3 separate regions of the Homo sapiens genome follow, and all the other regions are linked to region 1. The links come from fine-mapping of genetic effects on gene expression. A gene starts in region 1. Each other region holds a variant in brackets. All regions are shown on one strand. Distances are between the middles of the regions. Region 1 holds the start of POLM (DNA polymerase mu). Region 2 overlaps SPDYE1 (speedy/RINGO cell cycle regulator family member E1). Region 3 has its middle 2.8 kb from the start of LINC00957.

Region 1 (2,671 bases):
ATGGGGAGAGAGGGACCATACGCAGGCCTCCTGGCTTCTGTATGTGGGTCCTGAGGCCCAGGAAGCTCTACAGCCCTGAAGAGGTAGATGAATTAGGAGGCTGGGAGATGGTGTAGGAGGTCAAGAGGATGCCTGGGCTGAGCCATCTCCCCCACTCCCCTCAGCCCTGTGCTCTGAGTGCAGAGATGGGGAAGAGCCAGCCCACTAAAGATGTCAGAGAGGAGCCAAAGAAAAAGGATAGGTGCTCAAGGAGTCTGGGGCTCAAGACTGAGGACGATGGGGCAGTGATGAGGAGAGGCATGTGGAAGGGGGTTGCATCTGATCTGGTGTCCCATCAGTTAGGCTGAGCAGTGCCACACTACCGTAACAGAGGTTACAAATGGAGTATATCTAAATAAGATAGACAGAAGACTTGATATTATCAAGACATCAGATTTCCCCAGCTTGATCTATAGATTCAATGCAATCCCAATCTTGGGAAAGGAATTGCTGGATCAATGTGTATTATTTTGTTTTCATTTTGTTGGATGTGGTTGCCACATTGGCTTCCACAGTCCTTCCTATGGATTGCCAATTACCTCGCACCTTCAACATGTGTGGTCAATTTTTTTGAATGTTTGATAAACCCACAACTGAAGATATTCTCATTTAGGTATTCTGTAACGACTGGACAGGTTGGGCACTCTGGTCATAAATTTATTGACCAGGATTTCTTCTAAGAATCATCTACGTGAGTTTTTTTGCTAATTTTTCTATTAAATTATTGTCTTTTTATCTATGGACAATTTGATAAGATTATCATGAGATAATCTTAATTCCAAAATATCTCACACTTTATCCCAGTTTATCTTCTGACTCTAATTTTTAATCAGATTTAAAATTTGTCTGTAGTCCAGTTTATCATTCTTTTCCTTTAGTGTTTCCAAGTTTATTGTGATATTTAGATCATAAAAACATTCACCGACTTTTTTCCAGTACGTTGTTGGTTTCCTTTTTAGATGGAAATGTTTGACCCATCTGGAATTTATTTTGGTGTTAAGGAATGAGGAAGGGCACCAACTTCTATTTTTCCAAATGGCCTGCCAGTTGTCCTAATGCCATTCGACTGAAAAATCTTCCCGCGTGTTTGAAGCGACCGCCCCACCAGCGCATTGGAAACCCGCGTGTCGGTCCTGCGCCCGCCGGCTTCCGTGTGACAGTCCCGAGCGCAGAGGGATCGGGCACAGCCCGCACGCGTCCGCCCCGAGCCGCCGGCTCAACCCTAGACCCAGCCCCGGCGCCAAGGACACAGCCCACCCCGCTCCGCCCGGGCCTAGGTCCCAGTTCACCCTCCCTAGCCGGGGACGCCCCCTTGACCCCGCCTCCTCCACCCCCTCCAACACCCTCCCCGCCCCGCTCCAGCCCAGCCTCTCCTCCCGGAGGCCAATGGGGCCGAACAGCGCTTTCCGAGACATTAATTTAAATAAAAGGCGGGTCCTCTGCCGTTATTTGCATGGAGGCGGGTCTTCCGGAGCGGCCGGGACACCCAATCCTGTAGGAGCCCGGACCCTCCCCAGCGCTCCGACTGGCCCAAGTAGCGAGCCCCACGGAGAGGCCTCATTTGCATAGGGCGGGGCCACGTCCTCTTCCAGCCGGCGGCCGCCCGCCCGCCCACCCGCTTCCGTCAGCCTCACTGGGGCTTCCTTCCGTCTCGCTCGGAGTTTCCCTCTGCGTTCGCTCCGCGCTGCTGGAGGCTGTCGTCCCAATGCTCCCCAAACGGCGGCGAGCGCGGGTCGGGTCCCCTAGCGGCGATGCCGCTTCCTCCACGCCGCCCTCGACGCGCTTCCCGGGAGTCGCCATCTACCTGGTCGAGCCTCGCATGGGTCGCAGCCGCCGGGCCTTCCTCACAGGCCTGGCGCGCTCCAAAGGCTTCCGCGTCCTTGACGCCTGCAGGTGCGGGGCGGCGCGGCGCGGCGAGGGCTTCCATGGCACTTCTGGTTTTGGATTCTAAGTTTGCAGTGGCACTTCGTGGTCTTGTGACCTTTCCCTGAGCCTCCATCTCCTCTTCTGTAAAGGGTGCTATTAATTAGGGCGAGGCGTGTTTTAAAGGATCACTGCGAGAATCAAAACCAGAGGTCAGGGGTAATTAATAAGCAGTAGGCCGGGCGCGGTGGCTCACGCCTGTAATCCCAGCACTTTGGGAGGCCGAGGCGGGCAGATCACGAGGTCAGGAGATCGAGACCATCCTGGCTAACACGGTGAAACCCCGTCTCTACTAAAAATACAAAAAATTAACCGGAGGTGGTGGCGGGCACCTGTAGTCCCAGCTACTCGGGAGGCTGAGGCAGGAGAATGGCATGAACCTGGGAGGCGGAGCTTGCAGTGAGCCGAGATCGCGCCACTGCACTCCAGCCTGGGCGACAGAGTGAGACTCTGTCTCAAAAAAAAAAAAAAAAAAAGTCGTATTTGCTAACAGCCCTTCTGCCTGGGCTATGTCCCACCTGTGAGCGAGACTGACTTCTCAAGAGGCCCGGAGCCCGCAGGCTCCTCTGTCCTCAGGCCTGAGTAAATAACACGACTGAGAAGCTCTTGTAGGAAGGGAACCAAGAGAAGAAAAAATGGCGGCTACAGAGACAACACCCAGAGTAAGGGAGCTGGGGGTGCCCCCTAGTTTGGAGGTTGAGAGAGCAAA
Region 2 (2,798 bases), 79 kb after region 1:
TCGGATGCAAATCCGAGAAGCCAGAGGAAGGGTTTTGGGTGATGCTCCCAGGATGGTGGGCTCCGATGGGATCTTTGGAGGGGGTGTGTCTAGGTTGGCTGGTGTCAGGAGGGTCTTTTGTGTGCCAGGCAGAGAACTGTCCCGAAGAGCTGAGAGTAGAGGGGCCAGGAGCTTCAGGGCTGCGGCCAGACTGTGGCCCAGAGCTCAGATCCCAAAGGACCCATAGGAGAGGCAGGGGCCACTCATTCACTCTGCAAGAGACCAGCAGAATCCTGAGGGAGATGCTGACAAATCATAAAAAGACCAAGAATAGCCGGGAGTGGCGGCTCAAGCCTGTGATCCCAGTACTTTTTGAGAGGTGGAGACAGGAGGATCATGTGAGCCCAACAGTTCGAGAACAACCTGGGCAACATAGTGAGACCCTGTTTCCACAAACATTTCAAAAATTAGTTGAGCATGGTGGCATGTGCCTAGTCCCAGCTCCTCAGGAGGCTGAGGAAAGAAGATTGCTTGAGCCCAGGAATTAGAGGCTGCAATGAGCTATGATCATGCCACTGCACTCCATCCTGGGGAGCAGAGCTAGATTCTGTCTCACAAAAAAAAAATTTGTGGGTGCCAAGACTCAAGACCATGGGAGCTGGTCGGGCACAGTGGCTGACGTCTATAATCTCAGCACTTTGGGAGGCCAAGGTGGGTGGATTGCCTGAGGTCAGGTGTTCAGGACCAACCTGGCCAACATGGCAAAACCCCGTTTCTACTAAAAACACAAAAATTAGCCAGGCGTGGTGGTTCATGTCTGTAATCCCAGCTGCTTGGAGGCTGAGGCAGGAGAATCGCTTGAACCCAGGAGGCATCGGCTGCAGTGAGTGAAGATCGAGACACTGCCCTCCAGCCTGGGCAACAGAGCAAGACTCTGTCTCACACACACAAAAAAAAAAAAAAAAAAAAGACTGTAGGAGCATCTGGTGGGAGGTGGTGGAGGGAGAACTGTGGGTTTGGAAGCTGCGCCCTCCCCCCAGCCATGCGTTGGAACAGGAACAGTTACATGGAGAACAACCTTACCTTGTCCGACACCCTCAGATCTTTGTCCCAGGCCAGGAATCTTTTAATGACAGGATCCTCTGTGATTAGAGAGCAGATGTCAGTGTGAGAAGCAGGACAGGGTTTCCGTGGGAGCAGCAGGGCAGCGAGGAGAAGTGTGCCTCCCGGGGGGAAGTCTCAGGATTGTGGCCGCGGGTGAGGTGGATGGGAGAGGGGAGAATGACTTTCACTGGGCAAGGGAGAGAGGCTCCTGCTCTGAGACTCCCCTGAGAAGAGGCCGAAGGAGGCCCTGGGTGTGAGAATCTACAGGATGTAGAGCTGGGAATCAGCCAGGACCCCCTCCAGCAGACACGGAGGGACCACTGCAGAGTCATAAAGGAATTCCCATCATTTCCTCATGAGACAGTCACACATCAGGGTGTGACCATGGCCTTGGTATCCCCCACTATGGATGGAGACACTTAGGTTTAGAAAAGTCAGTAAGAGACATTAAGTTTCAGAGGGCACAGCTGAAACCACTTTCTTTGTTTATTGATTTTGTTTTTCTTTATTTGATTTTTATTTTTATTTATTTATTAATTTATTTTGAGACAGAGTCTTGCTCTGTGGGCCAGGCTGGAATGCAGTGGCCTGATCTTGGCTCACTGCAACCTCTGCCTCCCGGGTTTAAGCGATTCTCCTGTCTCAGCCTCCCGAGTAGCTGGGATTACATGCATGAGCTACTGTG[C/T]CCAGCCTTGGTTTTTCTTTTGAGACAGGGTTTTGCTCTGTCACCCAGGCTGGAGTGCAGTGGTGTAGTCATAGCTCACTGCAGCCTCAAAGTCCTGAGTTCAAGCAATCCTCTTGCCTCAGCCTCCCAACGTGCTGGGATCTCAGGCGGGAGCCACTGCGCCTGGCCCGAAACCAAGCTTTCTTATCCCAAGCGCTGACCTTTATCAAGTTGACCTAATCCTTTATCATCTCCTAAGTGTCCCTCATGAGTGATCACTTCACATTCCTCCCACATGGAGAGCTCACCCACTGGGGCCTATTTTTCCCATTGGAAAAGTGTGGTTATTGGAAGTTTCCTGTTTTTGGAAAGAACAGGATTGGAGGTGCTCTCTGGGGTGTCCTCCTACCAAGCAGCCTGTTGAAGGCCTCGTGGTGCTCAGGGAGCACGAGCGACACTCGCCGTCGCTTCAGCTTCATCTTGAGGCCACACAGCATCTCCGCCACCCAGATCTCCTCAGGCTCAGGGGCGAGCACCTTCCGTGGCTCCTCCTCCGACTCCTCAGATTTGTCCCACCACTCCATCTTCCTTTTCCAGCAAAAGGACCTATGCGGGGGGCTGGGATCTACCCCAGGGGCTGAGTAAAGAAACCAGGCCACGGTGTAATGCTTCTGCAGTTGATCACACTAGAGCCCGACCCAAAACCCCAAACCACTCTCCATCCTCCCCAGCCTCGCAGACTGCTGGCTTCTCCAAGCCATCTTTCCTTCTGTCTGTCTCCTCTGCTGAGCTCCATGTGCCGCTCCTTCTCCTCCCCATTCTCCCGTTTCTCTGTCCTCAGAACACTTCCTCATATCCTTCCCTGGTCCCTGGCTCTCTGAGTCCCTTTTTTTTTTTTTTTTTTTTTGTTGTTGTTGTTGAGAAACAGTCTTGCTTTGTGGCCTAGGCTGGAGTGTAGTGGTGCGATCTTGGCTCACTGCAACCTCTGCCTCCTGGGTTCCAGTGATTCTCCTGCCTAAGCCTCCCAAGTAGCTGGGATTACAGGTGCCCA
Region 3 (2,798 bases), 47 kb after region 1:
ACGTGCCACCAAGCCCAGCTAATTTTCTTTAACATTTTTTTTTTGCAGAGATGGGGTCTTGCTATGCTGCCCAGGCTGTTCTCAAACTCCTGGCCTCAGGCAATCCTCCTGCCCCAGCCTCCCAAAGCACTCAGATGATTATTATACATCTTCCTTGCCAGGGTTGAAAGATTTGACTACATGGGCATTATTTAATTCTGGTCCCATTTTTTTTTTTTTTTTTGAGATGGAGTTTCACTTTTGTTGCCCCGGCCAGAGTGCAATGGTGCGATCTTGGCTCACCGCAACCTCCGCCTCCCGGGTTCAAGCGATTCTCCTGCCTCAGCCTCCCAAGTAGCTGGGATTACAGGCATGCACCACCATGCCCGGCTAATTTTGTATTTTTAGTAGACACGGAGTTTCTCCATGTTTGTCAGGCTGGTCTCGAACTCCCAACCTCAGGTGATCCGCCTTCCTCGGCCTCCCAAAATGCTGGGATTACATGTGTGAGCCACTGCGCCCGGTCAGGATATGACTGTTAGAGCTTGGGACTACAAAAGCAAGTTGGAAAATTAATAAATGCAAAGTCACAAAGCCTTGGCCACGGCTGGATTGACTTTGTAGCCCAGGGAATGCTGGCTGTCCAGACACTACCCCAAAGCTCACACCTCCGAGGCCTTCTGGGAGTGCCCCCCAGAGAGGCCAGGTCCTCCTCTCCCAGTTGCTGGGCACTTGGTCACCATCAGTCTGTGCTCTGCCCTGGCTGAGGTCACTCTGGGTCTCCCACGCCTACCCCTGGTGCTGCAGAAGGGGAGACTGAGGCCCAGAGATGGGGAATGGAATGCCCCTGGCTAGGTCCCTGAGCCTCCTCCTCCCTGACTGCCCCAGAAAAGCGCCCTCATCAAGTTAGCCAACATCCGGGCAGCAGAAAAGGTTGAGGAAAAGAACTTTGGCAGCTCGCACGTCATGCAGGTCATCTACACGGACGACGCCGGCAGGCCCCAGACTGCCTACCTGCAGTGCAAGGTGCGGGGAGGGGAGCGGGTGCTGTGGGAGTGGCCTGAACACTGTGGGAGTGGCTTGGGTGCTGTGGGAGTGGCCTGGGTACTGTGGGAGTGGCATGAGCCCTGTGGGAGTGGCCTGAGCTCTATGGGAGTGGCCTGGGTGCTGTGGGAGTGCCCTGGATGCTATGGGAATGCCCTGGGTGCTGTGGGAATGGCCTGGGTGCTATGGGAGTGGCCTGAGCTCTGTGGGAGTGGCCTGGGTGCTGTGGGAGGGGCCTGAGTGGACTGGATGAGAAAAGAGTTGATTGAGCCTCTCGCCCCGCTACCAGCTACATCAGGCACCGCAGGGTGTGTCTAATCTGGGAGGTGTCAGGGACAGGTGTGTGTGTGTTGTCCAGGGGCCTGAGCCCCCAGGAGGCCATGGCCCATGTCTTTCCCTGGGCATCCATGTGTAGGTCTGTGTGTGGGCCAGTGCACAGACAGGTGCATCCCCGTGATGTGAAATTTGCACGTTGCACCCGTTTGTTGGAAACTATTTCCAGATAACTGAGATGGGGGCCAGGCACGCTGGTTCACGCGGATAATCCCAGCATTCTAGCCGGGGCAACAGAGCAA[G/A]ACCCTTTCTCTAAAAAAGAAAGTCTGAGCTGGCACCTGTGTGGTTCTGTGTCTGTATCAATGCCTAATAATCAAACATTATGCTCTGTGTGGCTCTGGGTGCATGTTCTCAAGTAACCTTCTCATCTGTTCCTTCATTAACTCATTCATTCATTTATTTAAAAAATACTTACTGAGCACCTCCTAGGTTCCAGGCATGATTCTAGGTGAGGGGATACAGTGACAGATGAGGCAGAGTCCTGCCCTCATGGAGCTGATATCCCAGGGAGAAGATGGGCCAATAAATACATGTTTCAAATGTCGGCTCATGCCTGTAGTCCCAGTACTTTGGGAGGCTGAGGTGGGAGGATCACTGGAGGCCAGGAGTTTGAGAACAGCCTGGCCAATGTAGCAAGACCCCATCTCTACAAAAAAAAAAGTAGCCAGCCATGATGGCATGCACCTGTGATTCCAGCTACTTGGGAGGCTGAGGCAGGAAGATAGCCTGAACCCAGGAGTTGGAGGCTGCAGTGAACTATGATCACACCACTGCACTCCAGCCTGGGCTACAGAGTGAGACCCTGTCTCTTAAAAAAAAAAAAAAAAGCAAATTGTGATAGTGACTTGAAGGGAACCAGAAGGGACTAAGGGAGCAAGGGAGGGAAGAGAGTGGGGTATAGCAGGGAGCGGTCTGTCCTATTAAGAGTGGTCAGGGAGAATACAAAAATTAGCTGGGCGTGGTGGCGTGTGCCTGTAGTCCCAGCTACTTGGGGGGCTGAGGCAGGAGAATCACTTGAACCTGAGAGGTGGAGGTTGCAGTGAGCTGAGATCGAGCCACTGCACTCCAGCCTGGTGACAGAGCAAGACTCCATCTCAAAATAAATAAATTAATTAATTAGTAAATTAATTAAAGAGTGGTCAGGGAGGACCTCTGATGGGTGGCATTCGAGCAGGGACCTTGTAGGAGGGTGACCCAGATGTGTATCTAGGGCAGGGACATGTGGGACAAGTAGGAAGCCTGCAGCTGGAGGGGGGTTGGTTTCTTCCAGGCTTGACCGTCCTGGCCTGTGGGGAGGAAGTCACAGACCTGTCCCTCTGTGCCCTTCCCTCTAGGAGTTCCCTTTTGTGTCAGGGTCCAGAGCCACTGGGAAAAGTAGTGATATCAGGGCCACCAAATATATTTGGCGGGTTCTGGAATACCTACGAGCGTGGCCAAGGGGC

The links. PIP is the estimated chance that this variant, and not a neighbour inherited with it, causes the effect.
Region 2: its variant is the best candidate, but not a certain one, in a credible set for the expression of POLM in Th17 cells (Schmiedel 2018, PIP 0.57).
Region 3: its variant is the best candidate, but not a certain one, in a credible set for the expression of POLM in whole blood (Lepik 2017, PIP 0.63).

Annotation. Positions count from the first base shown.
Region 1 is chr7:44,081,512-44,084,182 of GRCh38, reverse strand. It overlaps POLM (DNA polymerase mu), which reads left to right and starts at 1,653. Exons shown (of 11, transcript NM_013284.4): 1 at 1,653-1,932. The coding sequence starts at 1,745. RefSeq lists a silencer at 1,088-1,667 and an enhancer at 1,379-1,879.
Region 2 is chr7:44,002,176-44,004,973 of GRCh38, reverse strand. SPDYE1 (speedy/RINGO cell cycle regulator family member E1) reads right to left here. Exons shown (of 9, transcript NM_001378423.2): 4 at 2,157-2,384; 5 at 1,063-1,121. It also overlaps the pseudogene POLR2J4. Among named protein-coding and RNA genes, the nearest start is that of SPDYE1, 5.7 kb to the right of the region's middle. The variant C/T (reference allele first, on the strand shown) is at 1,769.
Region 3 is chr7:44,034,879-44,037,676 of GRCh38, reverse strand. It overlaps the pseudogene RASA4CP. Among named protein-coding and RNA genes, the nearest start is that of LINC00957, 2.8 kb to the left of the region's middle. RefSeq lists an enhancer at 794-1,293. The variant G/A (reference allele first, on the strand shown) is at 1,599.